Linked DNA regions of Homo sapiens. The protein of the gene in region 2 purifies or fractionates together with the protein of the main gene of each other region. This does not show direct contact. Each region holds a gene or a part of one and is shown on either strand. Other genes may lie near its edges.

Region 1 (7,627 bases), on a different chromosome or scaffold from region 2:
AATCGCTTGAGCCCTGGAGGCGGAGGCTGCAGTGAGCCGAGATCGCACCAGCCTGGGTGACAGACTGAGACACTGTCTCGAGGGAAAAAAAAAAAAATCAGTCTCTTATAGCCCTTGTTCTTTTTTTTTTCTCTCCTTCTCTCTTAGACTGTTTGTCTGTGGGATATAAACGCAGGACCAAAAGAAGGCAAAATTGTGGATGCTAAAGCCATCTTTACTGGCCACTCAGCTGTTGTAGAGGATGTGGCCTGGCACCTGCTGCACGAGTCATTGTTTGGATCTGTTGCTGATGATCAGAAACTTATGATGTAAGGTGGAAAATTCAGTGGGATCTTGTTAAATGGGTGACCTGAATGACCATCAGTGATTGCTGCAGGCTGTAGTTTGATTTTTTTTTTTTAAGTTATGGCTTTAAAAAACAGCTTTAGGTAGCTTACTCCTGTAATCTCAATACCTTGGGAAGCTGAGGCAGGAGGATTGCTTGAGACCAGGAGTGTGAGACTCTACACAAAATTTAAAAACAAAAAATTAGTTGGGTATGGTGGTGTGCACCTGTAGTCCTAGCTACTCAGGAGGCTGAAGTGGGAGGATCACTTATTATTTAGAAAAAAAGAAAACTAGGTATGGACATGTGAAGGAACATACTTGGTGTGGTGGTAAATATCAAAATTGAGATCCAGAGTGATGCCAGTTGGAGGTCGAGGAGGAAAATGATTTCATCAAGGTGTGGCCACAGGGCTTCATTCACTTATAATCTTATAAAGAAATACCTGAGGCAAATGTGACAAAATACTGGGCATTTGTCAAAACTAGTTTTAGGTATCAGATTGTGACATTATTCTCTACATAGTCTGTATTTTGTGTACACTTGAAATAGTTGGTAATTAAAATAGGAATCTAATTTAAAAAACAGGACTAACAGCCCTAGCTTGTTCTCTGTAGGTTTCGAATGTATCATTTAGTGGTCGAGGTCTGAATCACCAGCTGTGTGGTTGGTTTCTTCATGAAGGGGAGCACATAGTGGAGCTAGTTGTGGAGTGCAGTGACAGTGATGTGAGGCCGAATGTGAGTGTGTCATCCCTGGGTGCCGTGTGCCTTTACCTTTGTGTTTTAGATGGGACACCAGGTCCAATACCACCTCCAAGCCGAGTCACTTGGTGGATGCGCACACTGCCGAAGTCAACTGCCTCTCATTCAATCCCTACAGCGAATTTATTCTAGCCACCGGCTCTGCGGATAAGGTTTCGAAGTTTTTGCATTATTTGGTGTTTATAAAACCCAGTTCTCTTGTGCCTTAATCAGATATTTGAAAATTCTTAGGTAAAGCATAGAAATCATTTTCACTTGTTATTTTTCTTTAGACCGTAGCTTTATGGGATCTGCGTAACTTAAAATTAAAACTCCATACCTTCGAATCTCATAAAGATGAAATTTTCCAGGTATGTGACAGTTTTCTGGTGTCTGTATGTCAGGAAATGAAATCCAGGGATTCATCAGTTAAGCTATACCAGACTCGTGGGTCCACTATTGAAAAAAATGTCTTGTACGTGGTGTTACATGGAGATGCTCATAGGGTAAGGTACACCTTGTTGAAGAATTAAAAAGCTTCTGGGATGGTTATGGGGTCGAATAAATTTATTGAGATCCCAGGCTGAGTTCCTCAGTGCTGGGGAGTGCAGCCTTCCTGAGGACAGGATGGAGCTGAGCCCTTGCAGAGCACTTGAAAGTCGGGGACAAGAGAGTGAGGCCATCAGGCCAAGGATAAGATAATAGAGTGCAAGATGGGAAAATATCAGATTAGAACAACAGCCACAAACCTAGCAGCGGATGATTCTTTAAATACATTTTCAAAATTATCTATTACTAGGTCCACTGGTCTCCACATAATGAAACTATTCTGGCTTCAAGTGGTACTGACCGCCGCCTGAATGTGTGGGATTTAAGGTAACTTACAGTCCTGTGACAAGATACTGCATAAATGTGCCTATCTGGCAAGTTACATAGTCATTCATAAACTAGAAAAGCAATTTGGTAATCCCCCCTTCAAGAAACCTAATATTAAAGAAACTTCTAAGCATCTTCCTAAAGAGCCTTTGTTCTGTAAAATAGAAGTGAAGCAGCAAATGGACCATAAAATAAATTTCTCTAGTGTGAGTTTTGTCTCTTAATATTCAGGCATGAAGGTGTATGTGTCTGTTTTTGTTTTTGCATTCAAATGACTGTATTTAAAACACACTTGATATAGAGAAATCAAGATGTTAGCTGTTTTATGTCTCATTGGATCTCAGTACGTGTAGGCAGGACTGTTTTTTCTGGGTTTTTGTACCATTTACTTTGCTTTCAGTGATTCATTCTGCAGATGTGCACTCCTGCTGTGGGTTGTGTAACTGCTGGGGAGACCTTTGTGAAGGGGACAAGGACAGCCCAAGCTGTCAGAGAGCTTATGTTCTCTGGGGCCTCATTGTATAAAGAGTTTCTGCCAATTTTTAAAGTTCCTTTAGTTCAGACTTGCTGTTCTAAGAATTTTAGACTCCTTTACTTGTTCATCTGAGCCTTTAGAACTTAATAAAGTTGCTCAGTTACATACTCCTCCGTAAGATGTCATCTTAAGTTTAAATCATAAAATTACCAAAAAATAACTTATTTCCTGCTTGTATTAAATATATTGCTTTGAAGTGGACTGAATTTAGTACAGGTTGAATATCCCTTATCCAAAATACTTGGAATAAGAAGTGTTTGGGGTTTTGGAATTTTTAGGATTTTGGAATATTTGCATTATACTTTATTGGTTGAGCATCTCAAATCTGAACTGAAAGTCCAAATTCTTCTTCTTTTTCTTTTCTTTTCTTTTCTTTTTTTTTTTTTGGAGACTGAATCTTGCTCTGTCACGCAGGCTGGAGTGCAGTGGCGCAATCTTGGCTCACTGTAACCTCTGCCTCCCAGGTTCAAGCAGTTCTCATGCCTCAGCTTCCCGAGGAGGTGGGTCTACAGGTCTACAAGCACTGCCACAGCCACCATGCCCGGTTTTGTATTTTTTACTAAAAAAATAAATAAATAAAGGCAGAGCTTTGCCATATTGGCCAGGCTGGTCTCAGACTCCTGACCCCACGTGATTCTCCCGCCTTGGCCTCCCAAAGTGCTGGGATTACAGGCATGAGCCATTGCACTCGGTGTGAAAGTCCAAATTCTGAGTGTCACGTGGTGCTTAAAGTTTTGGATTTTGGAACATTTTGGATTTGGGATGCTCAACCTATATATTAAAACCAAGGCTGCCTTAATTATAGAGGCAGTAATCCTCAGTATATAGAAGAGACGCTGGAGAATAAAATGCTTGTATGTAAAACTTAAAATAGCTAATGTTCAGGGTTCTGATGGAGCAAACTCTTGCCGTGATAAATACTTGAAGATGTAGAAAACCTTTAAAGCAGACAGTTGGGGGCATTGTATTTGATTTAAAAACAATTTTAGTAGTAAAATAAAACCTAAATCAAAACTATAAAGAGGTTGTATGAAGCGTACAGCAAGGTTTGGAAGTCTGATGCCCTGGCAACTGAATTGCCCCTGAAGGTGCCAATAATTTGTGAGCATTGTGTGTAATTTCTTCTTAGAATTATTTCTTAGCTTGTTTAATATTAAAATTACATTAGATAGGGGGCCAGGCATGGCGGCTCATGTCTATAATCCCAGTACTTTGTGAGGCTGAAGCAGGAGGATCGCTTGAACCCAGGAGTTCGAGACCAACCTGGGCAACATAGACCCTGTCTCTACAAAAAATTGTAAAATTACATTAGATAAAATTTGGGATTAAAATGGTGAGTTTTAGCAACTATACTGACAGGTGGAAGATAAGTATTGTCTAGCAATCCCACAGGTTTGAGATTGTTTGGTTAGTTTTGTGGGAAGGAAAAAAATGTCTCACTTGGAGGGCTGGGTTTTGTTTTTTAGTAGTTGTTACTACTAAAGTCTTTGGGCTAGGTATAAGGACAGGGCTGATATTGATACATAAAGAGTGATTTCACTGTTGAGCACTGGCAAATTCTACAAATTGAAGTTTTTAAGAGAAAAACCATAAAAACATTTCCTTGGCTTACACATTTCTCAAAGTTTTATTGCCATATCTTTAGACAGATCTATAGTACTGATTTGTAATTATATTTTACTCCTGGGATGCAACAGGCTTTGAGTGAAGTATAGGGATTGCACATCAGTTTATGTGTAGATTTTTTTAACTATACATTTCACCTTTTAATTCTAAGGCAATAAACAGTTAATGAAGGGATTTTGAGTTAATGTTTATTATTGACAATAATTCCTCATTCTGCAACTTCAATTATGAACAACTCTAACTTATTTCCAGAAAGTAAACATCCCGTCCTTACACCAAATATAAACAGTAGCCAGATGTGGTGAGGCTGAGGCGAGAGGATCGCTTTTGAGCCCAGGAGTTCAAGGCTGTAGTGCACAGTGATCGTGCCTGTGAATGAATAGCTACTGACTGCAGCCTGGGAAACATAGCGAGGCCATGTCTCTAAGGAAAAAAAAAACCTAATTGATTGTAGTATAGAAATAAGTTGTTTTTGTGAGTGTGTTTATGTTTTAAGATTACTTTCTGGGCTGATACTGGTTTAGCAGATGTTCGTGCTACAAGAATTTCACTGATGAAAGCGTTATATTCTTTATTCTTACAGTAAAATTGGGGAAGAACAATCAGCAGAAGATGCAGAAGATGGGCCTCCAGAACTCCTGGTACGCATTGGCTTATAGAAGATGAAATGTCATATGCAGATTGGATTGTCATTGATCTCTTTATTTCGAGAATGGGTCAGAACTTCGAATTCTAGCTCTTGCAGATGGTTTCAAAATGGAGGCCCTGAAGGTTATTGCAACTGGGCTTTGACATTTATCAAAAATAGTAAATGGAGCCCAGTAGGTTTTTATGAATGTTTCACTGAGAATGGTTTGAGGTCCTGGAAAATAGTATATAGTAATTTCTCACTGATTTCAACTCTGGTATTTGTGATGGTTTGGGGATGGGGAGTGAGTATAATTGCTATTCAGTTGGCAGTACTTAACATTTCCTAACAGTATAGAAAAAATTTTAAATGCTTTTTAAGTTTCCTGCCCAGAAAAGGAGTGCTTTCTCAATCTTGATGTTAGCAGAGCCCACTATCTCCCTCCCATGCCTGATTGAAGCATCACGCATCTCCTTGGCCCTTTGAAAGCTTATGTGGTGGTATCTGCCCATCCTCATTCTTCCCGTCTGAGTCCTTCAGTGCTCACTTCGTCATTTTTCTATGAAGCATTGCCGGATTTAGCAATGGTTCCCTGTCCTTGCTCTGAATCCAACATTTGTCTCCTCCCATTATTTGGCCGATAGTCACTCATCACTCTGTCATTTACGATTTTAGTTCTAATGCCAGTACTCATTTTTGGCACACTTGTACTTTGTCCATGAGTTTTATTTATTCATTTTTTCTGTGAACCTATGGAGTATATTGAATGTCCACAAGTTTTCAAAGGTAAAGAAGGTCCTTGAGAGCAAGCCCTGCACACAGAAGATGTTCACTAAGCCCACCTTGTAAGAATGCTCCAGACCCTTTTATTTTGATGACGGCTTTACTGAGATATAATTTACATACCACACAGTTCACTTCTTTAAAGTGTACAGTTCAGTGGGGAGGGAGTGTTCTTGGGTTTTGGGGGTTTTTTTTCTTTTTTTGTTCTTGAAGTCAGTGGTTTTTAGTATATTCATAGACTTGTAAAACTATCACCACAAATCAATTCTAGAACATTATTCATCCCCTCCAAAAGAAACTATAGCTATCACCTCCCAATTCTCTTCTTCCTCCAGCCCTTGGCAACTACTGTGCTACTTTCTGGCACTATAAGATTGGGCTATTCTAGATATTTCATATAAATATGACTTTTGTCTTTTGGGACTGATTCTTTCACATAGTACAATGTTTTCAAGGTCTCCAGCTATTTTTTTTAGGGAGAAAGGAAAGCGTATTACTTTGTATATTATGCCTCTGCAACAATTCCAAGGTCCTTGAGAAAATACACTAGGATTTTGCTTTTTACAAGAGAGCTTGAAATCAAGGGACATTTGAGAGTAGTAAACTGGGCCTGGGCATGGTGGCTCCTGCCTGGAATCCCAGCACTTTGGGAGGCCAAGGCAGGTGGATCACGTGAGCCCACAAGTTCAAGACCAGGCTGGGAAACATGGCAAAACCCTGTCCTGTCTCTACCAAAAAAAAAAAAAAATACATAAATTAGCCAGGTGTGGTGGCGCGTGCCTGTAGTCCCAGCTACTTGGGAGACTGAGGTAGGAGAATCACCTGAGCCCGGGAAGTTGAGGCTGCAGTGAGCCATGATCACACCACTGCACTCCAGCCTGGGCAATGGGAGTGAGACCCTGTCCCAAAAACAAAGTAGTAAACTATTCCACCAGTATGCTTTGATAACTCCTGTATGTTTTCTAAGCCCCAGTGATCTTAAAATATATTCACCTGTGTACCCCTTAAGAGTACTCTCTCTGTCGCCCAGGCTGGAGTGCAGTGGTGCAATCTCAGCTCACTGCAACCTCTGCCTCCCGGGTTCAAGTGATTCTCCTGCCTCAGCCTCCCGAGTAGCTGGGACTACAGGTGCGCAACACCATGTCCAGCTAATTTTTGTATTTTTAGTAGAGACAGGGTTTCACCATGTTGGCCAGGATGGTCTTGATCTCTTGACCTCGTGATCCGCCCGCCTCAGCCTCCCAAAGTGGTGGGATTACAGGCGTGAGCCACCACACCCGGCCAGTATATTCACTTGTGTACCCCTTAAGAGTACTTTAAAAAGCTATTTACCTCTTTTTTTTTTAAGTCAAGGTCTGGTTCTGTCACCCAGGCTGGAGTGCAGTGGCGCAGTCTTAGTTCACTGCAACCTCCACCTCCCAGGTTCAAGCTGTCTTCCCATCTCAGCCTCCTGAGTAGCTGGGACTATGGGCACACCCCACCACGCCCGGCTAATTTTCGTATTTTTTGTAGAGACGGGGTTTTGTCATGTTGCCCAGGCTGGTCTTGAACTCCTGAGCTCGAGCCATCCGCCTGCTTTGGCCTCCCAAAGTGCTGGGATTACAGGCGTGAGTTTTACCCAGCCCCACCTCATATTTTTAACCCGATAAGATTATTCGGTAAAATAGATACATTGCATAATACCTAGTTGGCAGGCAGAGACCTCATTGTCAAACTAGAGTCAAATCAGACTTTGTCAGAAAGTGTGATGTCCCAGTTCCAAACAGTGTATTTAGTACTGTCCTTGTGAAGAAGTGTTTCGTTTAAATCTTAATTCTAAGATAAAAAAATAAGGCATAGTGCATTCCGACGAGGTTGTCTCTTGCGGGGAACAACTGCTCTCTTCAGAATTGTTTAGCAAAGCTCTCACCTTAGGCATAGCTTATGAGGGACTATCTGGAGCTATGCTTTTGGAGCCAGGGATTTTCTTTCACCCTGGTGCTGTCTGTGTACGTTGGAAAGATGGGCAAGAAGTATGCCTCTCTCAGTAAAGTGGAGAGGGGAAGAACCAGAAGACTCCTCAGGCCCCTTGTATAATAGAAGAGTATGTTACATGGCATATAACGGATTGA
Region 2 (8,315 bases):
CCAGGGTGGTCTCAAACTCCTGGGCTCAAGCAATCCTCCCACCTCAGCCTCTCAAAGTGTTGGGATTACAGGCAGAAGCCACCACACCCAGCCACAAGAAGATTAATACAGACCTATACCTCTCACACTGTGCACAAAAAATAACTCGAAATGGATCATAGACTTACATATAAGAGCTAAACCTATAAACTTCTGAAGAAAACATAATAGAAAATAGACTTTGGTAAAATAATTCTTAGTTATAACACCAAAAGCATATGGTATTTAAAAAAAGATAAATAGGATTTCATTGAACTTAAAATAAATTTTTTTCCCTTCAAAATACATTAAGCCCTGGCAAGGGTGGCTTGCACCTGTAATCCCAGTTACTTGAGAGGCTGAGGTGGGAGGATGGCTTGAGGCCAAGAGTTCCAGGCCAGCCTGGGCTACATATAGAGATCCCATCTCTAAAAGAATTAAAACAAAATTAGCTGGGAGTGGTGGTGTGCACCTGTAGTCTCAGCTACTTGAGAAGCTAATATGGGAGGATTGCTTGAGCCTAGGAGTTTGAGGTTATGGTGGGCTATGATCAGTGCCACTACACTCCAGGCTGGGCAACAGAGTGAGACCTTGTTTCTGGGGGAAAAAGAAAAGACATCATTATGAAAAATGAAAAGACAAGTCATAAAGTCATAGACAGGAAGACAATATTTGCAAATCATGCTTCTGTTAAAGAACCTAAATCTAGAATATATAAAGAACTCTTACAAGTTGATATAAGAAGATTGTCCAGTTAAAAAATACATAAAATATTTGAGTAGGCACTTCACTAAAGAAGATATAAGAATGGCTAACAAACCAAAGATGCTCAATAGCACTAGCCATTAGGGAAACCACAATGAACCACTTCACTCCCACTGTTTTAAATTATTATAATAATTTTTTTTTTTTTTTTGGCCAGGTGCAGTGGCTCATGCCTGTAATCCCAGCACTTTGGGAGGCCGAGGCAGGCAGATCACAAGGTCAGGAATTTGAGACCAGCCTGACCAACATGGTGAAACCCAGTCTCTACTAAAAATACAAAAATTAGCCGGGCGTGGTGGCACGTGCCTGTAATCCCAGCTATTCAGGAGGCTGAGGCAGGAGAATCGCTTGAACTCAGGAGGCAGAGGTTGCAGTAAGCCAAGATTGTGCCACTGCACTCCAGCCTGGGTGACAGAGAGAGACTCCATCTAAAAAAAAAAAAAATTATTATTTTTTTAGAGACAAGGTTTCACTGTATTGCCCTGGCTGGTCTCAAACTTCTGGGCTCAAGCAATCCTCCAGCCTTGGCCTCCCAAAGTGCTAGGATTACAGGTGTGAGCCACCATGCCTAGCAATCCCTACTGTTATGAGTGAAATCAGAAAGATAGACAAGTATCAGTGAGGATATTGGGAAACTGGAAGGCTTACATATTGCTTACACTTTGGAAAACAGTTTGGCAGTATCTTAAAATGTTAAACATAAACTTATCATACAACTCTGTAATTCCACTTCTAGGGATCTACTCAAGAAAAATAAAAAACGAATGTCCATACAAAGATTTGTACACAAATGTTCATAGCAGTCTTATTTATAATAGCCCCAGATTGAAAACAACATAAATGTCCTTCAACTGGCGAATGGATAAACAAAATGTAGTACATTCATTCAAATGGAGTCTATTTGGCAATAAAAAGAAATAACTACTGACTGGTACAACGTAGATGAACCTAAAAAATATTCTGAGTGAAAGAACCCAGATGCAAAAGACTACTTATTGTATGAAACCATTTATATGAAATTGTCAGAAAGCAGATAGCAGATTGCCTAGGGCTTGGAAGGAGGGTTGACTGCAAATGCGCATAATGAATTTTTTGGGGGTGATGGAAATGTTTTAAACGTGGATTGTGGTGATGATTGCACAATTCTAGTCACTGCTTATTGTAGACATTTAGGAACTGAAAGCGACAGACATTCTATCTCAACCCAAGCTTCCATGATTACCATAGCATGGGGGAGGGAGATGTGTCTCTGCTTCTTAAAGATTCTCCTGAGAAGTGATACATGTCACCCATTTTATTGGTCAAAGCAATTAACTTCAGGGGTGCAAGAAAGTGCAAATTTTTTTTTCTTTTTTCTTCGAGACAGAGTCTCCCTCTGTCGCCTAGGCTGGAGTGCAGCGGTGCAATCTTGGCTCACTGCAATCTCGGCCTCCTGGGTTCAAGTGATTCTCTGCCTCAGCCTCCCAAATAGCTGGGATTACAGGCATGCACCACCACGCCCGGCTAATTTTTGTATTTTTAGTAGAGACAGAGTTTTGCCATGTTGGCCACGCTAGTCTGGAATTCCTGGCCTAAAGTGATCTGCCCCCCTCAGCCTCCCAAAGTGCTGGGATTACAGGCGTGGCCACCGCGCCCGGCCAGAGTGCAATTTTACTATGTGTCTGGAAGAGAGGGGAACCAGAATACTTATGAACCACCCTAAGGATGATCACAGAAATACATACAACAATAAAGGGTACAGTTTACTCTGATCAGAGTTCACTCTATATTTCCGAGGAACCACAACTACAGCAGGTTTTTTTTTTTTTTTTTTTTTTTTTTGAGGCAGTCTCACTGTGGCTCAAGTAAGCCTACCACCTCAGCCTCCTGAATAGCTGGGACTACAGGCAGGGGCCCAGCTAATTTTTAAATTTTTTGTAGAGACAGGGTCTCACTATGTGGCTCAGACTGCATACTGGTCTGGAACTCCCCAGCTCAAGTGATCCTTCTACCTTGGCCTTTCAAAGTACTGGGATTACAGGAGTGAGTTGCTGGTGGCTGGCTGACAGGTATTCTTTATACTTGACTGTGACTCCCTGAGTGTCCTTAAATCTCTGAACACTTGGTTTGCTTACACCTTTGTACTCACACGTTTGCACAGAAAAATAACACTTTTTTTTGATAGAGGCATAATTTACTTCTCTAATGTATAAGGGATTAGAATACTTTTGTGTAGCCAAAGAGCCTAAATTATTAGAGTTTCTGAGGTGGAAATGAATGCGTCTGAAGTATTGAATCACTGAAGATTTTGAAGTTGAGGCTTGGTGACCACTTTACAGAAATGTTGAGGAAAACTTAGACCAAACGTTCTCCAAAACAGATGTTCTCTGATTAGGCTTAGCTGCACAGCAAATATATCTGTTTGTGCAATATCTTTATTAATTTTTGTACTGCATCTACTTTTTAATATTTTATTTATTTATTTACCTTAATGCCACGTTCCTGAATGGGAATGCATCTACTTTTTTTTTTTTTTTTTTGAGATGGAGTTTTTGCTCTTGTTGCCTAGGCTGGAGTGCAATGGCACGATCTTGGCTCACCACAACCTCTGCCTCCTGGGTTCAAGCGATTCTCCTGTCTCAGCCTCCCGAGTAGCTGGGATTACAGGCATGTGCCACCACACCTGGCTAATTTTTGTATTTTTAGTAGAGACGGGGTTTCTCCAAGTTGATCAGGTTGGTCTCGAATTCCCGACCTCAGGTGATCTGCCTGTCTCGGCCTCCCAAAGTGCTGGAATTACAGGTGTGAGCCACCGCGCCCGGCTGCATCTGCTTTTTTTAAGTCAAAATTTTCCTCAGCCAACGTATGAAGGTCACTTAAGACGAATTTATGAGAGACGATGATGAGAATTGAAATAAAGTGAAACCTGAAAGGTAGTAGGTAAGTAGATACAGTGAGGGTACAGTAAGAAGACAGACTTAAAAGATTAGGACTATTATTCAGGAGAAGCAGAGGAGTGGAAGGGTATGACCACAATATTTAAAGTATTGAATGGTATTGGATAAAACGAATATGCTTATTTGCCAAATTCTGAGATCACAGGCTGAGGGAACCCCTTTTGAAGTATGAGCCAAATGAGCTTAGACCACAAAAGGTACTTTTTCAGAGACAGAAAAAATATGGTGTTCACTATCCCTGTGGCATAATATGGGACAAAAATATAAAATGGCTTTAAAAATATTTTGACGAAATTATAAATAAAGATTCCACACGTGGCTACTAAGAGGAGCTGGGTTGTATCTAGGTGTAAGTTAAAGAGACAAGCATACAATCTCACAGCTTGTCAGTTGGGACCCCTGTAGGCAGCAGAATCTGGGCAGGCTAAGGGTCTGCACTAATAAACAATTCTGTTTTCTTAAACCATTTTGCAGGGGACTATTCTCAGATTTCATTACAACTAGGAAGGACTGCAAAGCGGGTAAACAGAAAACAACCTTTCATCGTTAGGAAAAAAATCGTCTGAAAGTCTTTCATAAAAGCAGCTCCTGATAAGGAGTTTGGGACTGGACAGTGAATCGCTGAATAAAATTTAATCTCGACATCCTGGGTCTTCTCCCCTCTGAAGGAAATTCTAACAGCAGGCCTTAGGATGAAAGTAGAGGAAACGTGCTTCAGTTAAGGTTTTCTCCAGGGAAAAGAAATCGGCCCAGCAAGATGCACAGAGCACCGTTACGACCACGCACACCGAAGGTCGCACACGACCCTTTTCCTGTATAACAGTGCCAGCCTGCCGACGATCAGGAGCGCAGCTTTCACTATTGTGTTAGCCCCGGCGGCGGAAGGACTGAGCCTCACTGCAACGTTAAAGAGTCCTTCTTTGTTCAGCCCCAGTCGGGGACGCAGGGCGCGGTGTTCCTCCGCGCTCGCCGCGCAGTCCCTGCCCCCCCGCGGCTTTGGAGAGCTGCCATTCGGCACCGGAGTCGCTCCGCGCTCCCAGAATGCACCGGCAGTCCGCGGGAAACCAAAATGGCGAGGGGCTGTATTGAAGTGGGCTGTGTTTGAGGCCGGTGTAAGAACGCTCATTCTACCCCCAACCCTTGTCTCCAAGGACCTCGGTTTGTGCGTGCATATGTGCCGGGTACCCGGTGGGGCGGGTGCCCAGTAAGTGCTCGGACTCGCAGGGGAAGCGCCCACGGGGACGGATTGGTTGTTTTTTCCTGTATGAAGCGGTTGGCACCACTGAAGTGACCGAATGAGGTGAGAGACCTTGGCCTGGGAACCGACTCTTCCGGAGGAGATGGGGGTTGGGGGAAGGAGGAAGAAAGGAAGCAAGTATAAAAGGGAAAGATGGAGGACCAAGGTGGGGGTGGGGGCTCCTGTATGTGGGTGCCTTTGCATTTATGTGTATATTGAAAAGAATGGATGAAGAGGAGTAGTCAGTTGAGTGTTGGGAGAAAATAGGGACTAAAGGAGCGAGGAGGTCGTTGGGGGAGTCTGTTGGAGGAACAAGATGAAACGTTGAGACGGGGAAGCTGTGTTTGGAGGGCAGGAAGGAACCTGGGGGCGGGAGACGGTTGGAGGGGCAGGATGAACCTGGTGACGAGGGGGTGGGGAGCCGAGAGGAGGAGCCGTTGGGAAATGGGGGCTGAGGGAAATGTGGGGAGCAGAGTGGAGGGCTGCCTGGGACCTTAGCAGTGCGCAAAGGGAAGTAGCAGCTTGGAATCGGAGGGTGGAATTGTATGGAATTGGAGTAAAGGGGGTCGAGTGTAAGTGCTGGTAAGGATAAGGGGAACACACTGAAGTGGAGGTTGGAAGCACAACCTGAAAGCTTAAAGGGAAGCGGTGGGAGGGAAAGTGAGATGGGGGAAAGCTAGGTAGCTTATATTTGGAGCTCACCAAAAATATGAGGCTTTTCTTGTGTTTAATTAAACCTAACTCATATAATCTACGTCTAGGATGTAGATTTGTATTGTATTCATTTTTACAACTGAGGTAATTACGGCTCAAGGAATTTTAACCAATTTGCCAAGATTTCTTAACATATTTCGGTAGTGCCAGAACTCTAACTCTGTGTTTTACAATCTGGTGTCCTTGGTTGCTAGAATTTTTCTTTGGAAGCAATTAGAGGGAACAGATGGATTTATCGGGGTAATCTGACTAACAGCAAGGGTTTGTGAACAATGGGAAAAGGCTTATGGAATGTTACTCTATTCTTTAAAACATTTAACTTTGGTTAAAGATAGAAACCATGTAACACTAACTTAAATGTGAAAACCTAGCTAGGCCTGTGTGTAATACATAGGAAGGCACCATGTGAGGTCAGTACAGAGCTAGAAATATGTAAATAGTACCTGATTTAATTTGACTTCAGAACCTCCGGTAGTAATAGTAGTTACTTTCTCCTTCAGATGGATTCCATGTGACCCTCCTGTATACCTAGCCTACAAGCTGGTTTCAATTTCCATGGTTTCATTCTCTCTTGGGAATTCCTTTTTTTTTTTTTTTTGTCAGTAAATTTCAAAGATAGTTGTATGTAGAAGTAGTTAATGTGGATAAAATGTAATTAAATTCACAATAACCTTTTTAAGATTTGAAAATGCTTTAAAGGGAGTTGTTTTGACTGATGGCTTTAAGTGCCCTATAGTTTAGTTATAACTTGAGAGGGAATACAAAATGACTTGTTTTTTCAGATTCCTAAATATAAAAATGTATTTGAATTCACATTTTAAAATTAGTTCACCTGCAGTTTTTTAAAGTGCTAAAAATGTTCTAAATATTTGAATTAAGAACACACCTGCTTCCTGATACTACATTTATAATGTTAGTGGGTATTAACGGAAATGTGTAACTATCAGGATGAAATGCATACACAGTTTTAGAACTAGTTGTACAGAAATCATCTTGTTAAGCCTTTTTTCTAGATGACACAATTATATTTAATAGTTCTTTAAATCATCCCCGTTGCCTCAAAGCTCTGTTAGGAAAGACATTCTGTGTATTTTACTGTGGGTCATTAACTCTTTGATTTCATGGATTATAAATATTCCTTTTTGTGGGATCTTTGAAGGATAATTTGCTTTAATCATTTTTCAGCATAATCTTTACATCTGACTTGAGGAAACTGACAGTATATTGTTAATCTATATTTTAACAGAGAAATTTGCCTCTGAGGAGTTGCCATGACCAACATCTGTAGCTTGATGGTTCTGAAAGTAAAACTTAACTGCTGTTTTAGTTAGTCGACACTTCCATGAACGATCTTTGATGGTTAATATTTTTGTACTTTGTTTTCCCTGTTCTTCAGGAAAATTTGTTTATTGCTGTGAAATCCAGTATAACCATCCTAAATTGGAATGTAAAAGTTTCCCTGTGGATATTTCTTATATGTTAGAGTAGTGCTATCTAGTAGAAATTTCTCCAGTGATGGCAGTGTTCTATATCTGCTGTATCCAGTACAGTAGCCACTAGCTGCATGTGGGTATTGAACTCTAGAAATGTAACTAGTGAGACTAAGAAGTGAATTTATAATTTAATTCATTAAAACTAAAATTTAAATGGCCATATGTAGCAGTGCTACTGTATTGGACAGCACAGTAGTAGGGGTTATTGCATCCATGTATTGAGGAATTGTTACATTCATTAACCATGGAAACCACAGGAATCCAAGGATGAGGAAATGCCTGAGAACTGAGGAAGTTCAGATTCTTTTTGTACATTTAAGATGAAGTATTCATTTTTACCACATACCATGTCTTCTGTCATATTTCTGTTTTCATATAACATTGCAATAGAATAATGAAAGATAGTGACCTCTCTAGTCTTTTTAAAATATAAGATTCTGCTTCTGTGTCAAAAAACAACAAAAAATGGATATTAGGAACGTTTTGTTGTTTAAAAAAATTACTTTGTTTTTACACTTTGGTAGAAAAAACTTAAGGAATATTTCAAACATAATACAAAGTGAGCAGAATAGAATAGTGAGCTTTTATGTAACCATTCTTTTTTTTTTTTTTTTCTGTAAAAAGAGACAAGGTCTTGCTCTGTCACCCAGGCTGGAGTGAAGTGGTGCTATCATAACTTGCTGCTGCCTCAGACTCTTGGGCGGAAGTGATCCTCCTGCCTTAGCCTGCCGAGTAGTTAGGACTACAGGTGCACACCACCACACCTGGCTAATTTTTAAATTTTTAATTTTTTTTGTGGAGACGGGATCTTACTGTGTTGCCCAGGCTGGTCATGAACTTTTGGCCTCAAGCAGTCCTCCTGCTGTGGCCTCCTAAAGTGTTGGGATTGAGCCACTGTGCCCAGCCCATTGTTTTTATTATTTTTTAAAGGTTTATTTTTAGGTGAAGTTTACATATATTGAAATGCACAAATCTTAACTGTACAGTTGTTAATAAGTTTTATTGAGATATAATTTATATACTATAGTTATATGTACATAATTCACATGCATTCTTTGAAGGTGTACAGTTCAGTGATTTTTTTTAGTATACTCACAAAGTTGTGCAGCCATCACCATACCTAATTTCAGAATATTTTCATCATCCCAAAAA
Region 3 (7,627 bases), on a different chromosome or scaffold from region 2:
TCTGTCGTCCAGGCTGGAGTGCAGTGGCTGGATCTGGGCTCACTACAATCTCTGCCTCCCGGGTTTAAGGAATTCCCCTGCCTCAGCCTCCCGAGTAGCTGGAACTACAGGCACGCACCACGACACCCGGCTAATTTTTGTATTTTTAGCAGAGACAGGGTTTCACCATGTTGGCCAGGCTGGTCTCGAACTCCTGACCTGAAGTGATGTACCCGCCTCCGCCTCCCAAAATGCTGATCCAGACGTGAGCCACCACGCCCAGCCTAGGATAAAAATTTCTAACTTTGCCCTTGAGTGTTCTCTGTATTTGATAATTACTATTCTTTGTACTTGCCATGAGATATTTTGAAAAACATCTCTTTGGGGAATTGGTTTAAAAATTCATATTAAATTATTTTCTGGTACAATTGAGAATGTATTTAGTCAGTTTAAGTAGCAGTGACTTAAAACACACTTGTTGATCTAGTGTAGTTAGAAAAAGTTCTGATACTTTGATACCTAGCTTTGCCTTGCACAAATACATTTAAGTGAATATCTTTATGTTGGCCATTTAAAAATTTTAGGCAAATTTCTCCAAGTCATACTGGAATTTTCCCAGGATACCTTCCTTCTTTTGAGGTAGTGTGCTCAAGGATTCTGAATTTATTTCAGTATTACCCTTTACATGAGCAGTGATTGAGAAAGTTGATCTGCTTTTTAAAAACCAACAAGGACAAATCCTCCAATATAATGTATTCTGTGGTTAATTAGCAATGATTTATGGATTAGCCTTGAAGTCTTTATATCAGTATAGATGACAAATTTTCTGTAAATCATGATAGATTCTATATGAGTAGGTGAAATCTTCGGGGGAGAGCATAAGTGAACAGCAGCAATTCATTAAATTCAGAGAAAGGTTCATGGTCAGATGATACATACTTTACCTTCTGGAGGTCTTCCCTGAATTCCCACTCTTGTGTTCCCACAGGGTTTTATCATATTTTATTGTAGCATGACTCAATTGTATTGTAATCACTTGTTTATGCATCCCTCTCTTCCCTACAGTCAAAGTGCCTCCTGGTAGAGGCTCTGTCTTATTTTTTTCTTTGTATACCTAGTACCTACGTTGGTATTTGCTAGAGAATAGGGGTTTTAAATATAGTTGAATGAATTAAGGAAATATGAAAAATGTAGGGAAATAATTTGACAAAGGAACTTGCAAAGTGAACAGGATATGTTAGTATTCATGTGAGGAACTTTGAAATGTGTTTTTCTCCCTCTTTAATAGGGAATGATTACAAAGAAAAATAGTTGTCAAGGTGAACAAGTTCCAAGTTTTTCCTAGTTATAATCTGTAGTACTAAACATTAGATATCCTTTAGATGCAACTATTACACTCGGACAACTGGAGAGAACTTGATGAATCATCTGGATATTTAGTAATAGTATTTGCTTAATTTGATTTAATGTTGATATTGATGATCTCTTTGCAAAAATATAAGGAAGGGAAAGGGCGAGAGAGGGTAGTAGATCTTTTAACTGAAAAGCTGTTTTGTTATAATTCATGAGTTCTTTATTGGAGTAAATTGAGGTAGGTTTTGGAGCTAAAACTGAAGGATGTAGCGACAGTGTAATTGGATCATTTATTGGGATGCTTTTCATCATTCTTTTAAAATGATTTAAATACAGATTAGCAAATTTAGTGATACCTCAAAAGTTACAGCTGGTAAATTTCTAAGATAGTTGCACCATTCCATATCTTGCCACTGTTCCACTACTTGGTATAAAAATATGACAAATTTGTGTTTAGATTATGTGGTTAGCAGTTTCTTAATAATTGGTCTTGTTTTCCATTAACAATAGCAAGACAGAACAAGATCATAGCTCACTGCATCCTTAAACTCCTGGGCTCAAGGGATCCTCCTGTCTCAGCCTCCTGAGTAACTGGTATTACCAGTGCACACCATTGTGGTGACTTATTTAATTTTTTAATTTTTTGTAGAGATGGGATCCTGCTTTGTTGCCCACGTTGATCTCAAACTCCTGGCTCCAGGCAATCCTCCTGCCTTGGCCTCTTAAAGTACAGGGATGACAGGCTGAGCCATTGTGTTTGACCCAGATACTTTTTTTTTTTGAGACGGAGTCTCGAAAGTGATTCTTGTGCCTCAGCCTCCTGAGTAGCTGGGACTACAAGCGTGCGCCACCACGCTCGGCTAATTTATTTATTTATTATTTATTATTTATTTTTTTGAGATGCAGTGTCACTCTGTCACCTAGACTGGAGTGCAGTGGCACCATCTTGGCTCACTGCAACCTCCACCTCCTGGGTTCAAATGATTCTCCTGCCTCACCTCTCAAGTAGTTGGGATTACAGGCATGCACCACCAGGCCTGGCTAATTTTTGTATTTTTAGTAGTGATGGGATTTCACCATGTTGGCCAGGCTGGTCTCGAACTCCCGACCTCAGGTGATCCACCTGCCCTGGCCTCCCAAAGTACTAGGATTACAGGCGTCAGTCACTGTGCCCAGCCTCCGATAATTTTTATATTTTAGTAGAAACTGGGTTTCACTGTGTTGGCCAGGCTGGTCTGGAACTCCTGACCTCAAGTGATTGACCTGCCTCGTCCTCCCAAAGTGGTGGGATTATAGGTGTGAGCCACCACACCCTGCTGTGTTGTTTTTGTTTTTGTTTTTTGTTTTTGTTTTTGTTTTTTGATATGGAGTCTCACACTTGTTGCCCAGGCTGGAGTGCAGTGGCGTGATCTCGGCTCACTGCAACCTCTGCCTCCTGGGTTCAAGCGATTCTCCTACCTCAGCCTCCCGAGTAGCTGGGATTACGGGAACGCACCACCACACCTGGCTAATTTTTGTATTTTTAGTTGAGATGGGGTTTCACCACGTTGGCCAAGCTAGTCTCGAACTGCTGACCTCAGATGATCCGCCTGCCTCGGCCTCCCAAAGTGCTGGGATTACAGGCGTGAGCTACTGCGCACGCCTGGCCTGGATACTTTTTAAACATTTTTAAATTAAAAATTTTTTTTTGGAGACAGGGTCTTGTTGTCACCCAGGCTGGAGTGCAGATGCGTGATCTCAGTTCACTGCAACCTCTGCCTCCTGGGCTCAAGCGATCCTTCCATCTCAGCCTCCCAAGTAGCTGGGACTACAAGTGCATGCCACCACGCCTGGCTAATTTTTGTATTTTTTGTAGAGACAGGGTTTTGCCATGTTGCCCAGGCTGGTCTTGAACTCCTGAACTCAAGAGATCCACCTACCTCAGCCTCCCAAAGTGCTGGGATTATAGGTGTGACCCACTGCACCCAGCTTTTGTTTTTAATATTTGTAAGAACCACCTTGTGTCTGCCAACAGGCGAATTAACAAAATGTGGTATATAAACCAATGAAAACATAAAAGGAGTGAAATAAAGACGTAAAAGGAGTGAAATTTCAAAATAAAAGTAAAAAGATTTCAAAATAATTCAGACATAAAAGGAGTGAAATTCTGATACATGGATGGAGCTGGAGAATATTATGCTTAGTGAAATAAGCCAGATACAACCTTTTGTACAAAAATACAAAATTGTATGATCTCATTTATATGAGGTAGTTAGAAGAGGCAACTCTATGGAGACAGAAAGTAGAATAGAGGTTACCAGGGCTGTGAGGGGAGAGGTGAATGGGGAGTTTAATGAATACAGAGTTTCTGTTTGGAATGGTGAAAAAATTCTGGAGATGGATAATAGTGATGGTTGAACAATATTTTGAATATATTTAATGCCACAGAATTGTACACTTAAAAATGGTTAAAATGGTAAATTTTACACGATATGTATCTGTATCTATATATATCTCTCTCTATATCTATATATCTTACCAGAATACAAAATTTAATAACACACTCCGAAAACCTTTACAGATGAGGAAACTGAAGAAAACTGTCTACAGGGGAGGAGTTAAGAATTTGCCCAGGATTATTCAGCTGGGAATTTGCATTCGGGATCCAAACTTAGTTCTGTTTCACTACATATTATCTACTCCATATTATCTGTTCTGTGTTATCTGCTGGCTTTCTGGGTGATTAAAGATATGTCAGCTCCGAGAAGAATGAGTTTATTTGAATCATTCAGAAAGTTACATTTAAAAGTAGGTAATTGTAGTTTGATGGAAGGTACAGTGTGAAACCCTAGACAGACTAAAGGTTAACTTTGAGGATTTCTTTCTCAGCCAGAGTGGTAATAGTATGCATTTGAGAGGGGAGGAGAGTAGAGTTCTAAGGATGTGGTCTTTGGAGACAGTTTCTTGGGTTCCAGTCCCTGAGCTACCAATTTGTGTCTGGGGTGTTATCCTCTTGATGTCTTAGCATCCCTATCTGTAAATTGGTGAGGATAATGATAACATCTGATAAGGTGGTTGTGAGGATTAAAGGAATTGATACATGTGAAATCCTTAGAACTGTACCTGGCAAAAAGTGTTTGATAAATGATTTTCAGTTATTGTGCCAATATTATTTTAGAGTTGATGTACTTTCTCATTAATGGAACCAAACACTTCTCAAGTTAAAATTACGTGCTTAGGACTGGTAAGTTACAAAAATGGTACCACACGTTTTATCTATTTCAATTTAGAAATGTCTGTTGATTAAATGTGTTCGCTTTAAACTACTGAAACAATGTAGACATTTATAAAATGAAAGCGTATTGATCCCTGTTATCTCATTCGCTACCTTTAACGGTTTGGTGTATATTCTTCCCCAAATTTTCAAATATATTCATATATGAATATGTATTTTTACATACATTTTATAAAAATGGGACCAAGTTATTTGGTTCTAACATGGCTTTTTTTTAAGGTCAATACAAAGATCTGTTTTATTAAAAAATAATTGATATTCCTTTAGGGCTCACTATATGCTTGGTACTCTTCTAAGTCATTATTTTATATAGATACTATAATATCGAGAGATGGAGAGATTAAGTAACAACTAGTTAGTGGTAGAGGAAGGATTTTAATTTGGGTACGTTAGCTTCAAAGTCCTGATCTCCCAGCCAGGGATCATTTTTGGTAAGGCCTGTGAGCTGGAAACGTTAACACTTTTAAAAGAGTTGTAAAACAATACCACCCCACTTCCCTGAAGAACATATAAGGGAGACTAGATACCGCCTGCCAAGCCTAAAATACTTACCATGTGGCCCTTTACAGAGAAAGTTTGCTGCCCCTTGCTCTAAGCCATCCAGCTGTACCTCTTTGGTGTAAGGGGGGTGCATAGTATTCCAGTTTATGAATGTGCATTACGCAGCAAACCAATCTGTTGTGATTGACATTGTTTTCTCTCCTGAAAAGAAGTGAACATCCTTATGTATCTTTGAACATTTGTGTGACAATTTTCTATAGAGTTGGCTCTTTCAAGATTATGAACATTTCTAGTTTTAATAGGTGTTGTCAAGTTATATTAATTTTTAGTTAAAACAACAACTGTATTGAAGTATAATTTACATACAATAAAAAGCACACATTTGAAGGGTATGATTTGAGGAGTTTTGACAAATGTATGCACCTGCACCGCTGCCTGGATCAAGATCTATAATGGTTGCCATCATCTCAGAGTCCTTTCATCCTCTTTTACAGTCATTCTCTCAACTTTTTTTTTTTTCCCTCCAAGATGGAGTCTTGCTCTGTCACCCAGGCTGGAGTGCAATGGCATGATCTCGGCTCACTGCAACCTCCGCCTCCTGGGTTCAAGCAATTCTCCTGCCTCAGTCTCCCGAGTAGCTGGGATTACAGGCGTCTGCCACCACACCCAGCTAATTTTTGTAGTTTTAGGCGAGATCTCAGCTCACTGCAACCTTGACCTCCTGGGCTCAATCGAACCTCTCACCTCAGCCTCCCAAGTAGCTAGGACCACAGGCATGTACCACCATGCCCAGCTAACATTTATTATTAATATTTTTTTGTAGAGATGGGGTTTTCCTGTGTCGCCCAGGATGGTTTCCAACTCCTGGGCTCAAATGATTCTGCCTTGGCCTCCCAAAGTGTTGGGATTACAGGCATGAGCCGCGGCACCTGACTTGTAGTAAACTCTCTGAATTAATATTCCATTGTAGGCATGTGCTACAGTTTTTAAATTCATTTACCCATGGATGGACACATAGGACTGTTGTCAGCTGTTGATAAAGCTGCTATCACCATTTGTATGTCTTTCCTGGACATGTTTTAGTGGTAAATATTGATTTTACTTTGTAAGAAACCGTTAAACTCTTTTCCAAAATAGTTGTACCATTTTAAATTGAAAGTTACAGTTGTAACTGTGCAGGAGTTACAGTTTCTTCACATTTTCATTGACACTTCGTGTTGCCAGTCTTTTAAATTTTGGCCATCAAATGAGTATTAAGTATCTCATTGTGGGTTTGTGTTTCTCAGATGATCAATGATGTTGGAACATCTTTTCATATGCTTATTGGCCATTTGTGTACTTTTTTTGGTTCAAGCCTTTTGTCCCTTTAAAAAATTGGATTGTTTGTCTGGTTGAGTGGCAAGAGGTCTTTATATGTTCTGGGTACATAGTCACATTATCTGTCAGATTGTGTTGCAAATATTTTATTGTTCATTTTTGTTTGATTTTGTGTATTTTTAATACTATAAAGATCAAGTTAAAACTTTAATATGGGAAGCATAATCAGATAAATTATGTGAAACAAATTGTCCTTAATTCACGAGTCATTTAATTAGTGTAACAAAATGTTATGCATTTGCAGAAACTTGTAAACTAAAAGGATATTATTCATATGCTGTTAGGTGTATGGATGATAATTTTTTTTAATTAAACTAGTTTTGAAAATTATTGTATTTAGTAATTCTCTTCATTTTGCATAATTCAAACCTTTTCATTTATTAGTGAGTTAAGCCTTAAATTTTTTCTTCAAAGGATAAATGAGAATATTAAAAGTAAAAAGTGACCTTGATCTTAGAATGGGGTATGTAGAAATGATGATTGCCAAACTTAGTTTCCCTACTTTGACAATCAAGTAAAATTTTTTTTTTTTTTTTTTGAGACGGAGTCTTGCTCTGTCCCCCAGGCTGGAGTGCGGTGGCGCGATCTCGGCTCACTGCAAGCTCTGCCTCCTGGGTTCACGCTGTTCTCCTGCCTAAGCCTCCCGTAAATTTTTTTATTATAGAAATGGATGGCTTTTCAGATTATATATACTTGGTTTCTATACACTATTTTATTTTTGTAAAGTAGCAGTTCTTTTGCTCAACACCTGAATTGCCCCCACAATAAATTTTTAGTTTTTCTTCAATATTCAAGTAATACATAACTTTTCCTTTTCCTGTTTAACAAAGAAAAAAATATATAAAGCAAGCTGTTGGACCTCCATTGGGTGTTGTTTACCACCACTGTAGGTGATCGTGGCATTGTCCACCTCAGTCTTCTCATGGCTGTGGATTCAAGTTAAGAAATTCCTGAAGGTAGCATTCCAGGTAGTCTGTAGAACAGCCCAAACTCTCTGAATTAGTATTATCTCTGATAGGTGTTTTTTTTTTCTTTGCTTTTTTATTTGAGACGGGGTTTTGCTCTGTCACCCAGCCTGGATTTCAGTGGCACAATCTTGGCTTACTGCAACCTCCACCTCCTGGGCTGAAACAATCCTCCCAC

Evidence for each region.
Region 1: the proteins of MTF2 (region 2) and RBBP7 purify together in Homo sapiens (affinity purification with mass spectrometry; 6 studies listed by BioGRID and IntAct, with this or other methods). This does not show direct contact.
Region 3: the proteins of MTF2 (region 2) and EZH2 purify together in Homo sapiens (affinity purification with mass spectrometry; 10 studies listed by BioGRID and IntAct, with this or other methods). This does not show direct contact.

Annotation. Positions count from the first base shown.
Region 1 is NC_000023.11:16,846,363-16,853,989, reverse strand, and holds part of RBBP7 (histone-binding protein RBBP7), read left to right. Parts: intron 1-147; coding exon 148-308; intron 309-1,114; coding exon 1,115-1,241; intron 1,242-1,361; coding exon 1,362-1,439; coding exon of another isoform or gene 1,440-1,574; intron 1,575-1,867; coding exon 1,868-1,944; intron 1,945-4,688; coding exon 4,689-4,746; intron 4,747-7,627. UniProt on the Homo sapiens protein: Core histone-binding subunit that may target chromatin remodeling factors, histone acetyltransferases and histone deacetylases to their histone substrates in a manner that is regulated by nucleosomal DNA.
Region 2 is NC_000001.11:93,074,513-93,082,827, forward strand, and holds the start of MTF2 (metal-response element-binding transcription factor 2), read left to right. Parts: upstream 1-4,770; 5' UTR 4,771-5,014; coding exon 5,015-5,019; intron 5,020-8,315. UniProt on the Homo sapiens protein: Polycomb group (PcG) protein that specifically binds histone H3 trimethylated at 'Lys-36' (H3K36me3) and recruits the PRC2 complex, thus enhancing PRC2 H3K27me3 methylation activity.
Region 3 is NC_000007.14:148,874,292-148,881,918, reverse strand, and holds part of EZH2 (histone-lysine N-methyltransferase EZH2), read left to right. Parts: intron 1-7,627. UniProt on the Homo sapiens protein: Polycomb group (PcG) protein. Catalytic subunit of the PRC2/EED-EZH2 complex, which methylates 'Lys-9' (H3K9me) and 'Lys-27' (H3K27me) of histone H3, leading to transcriptional repression of the affected target gene.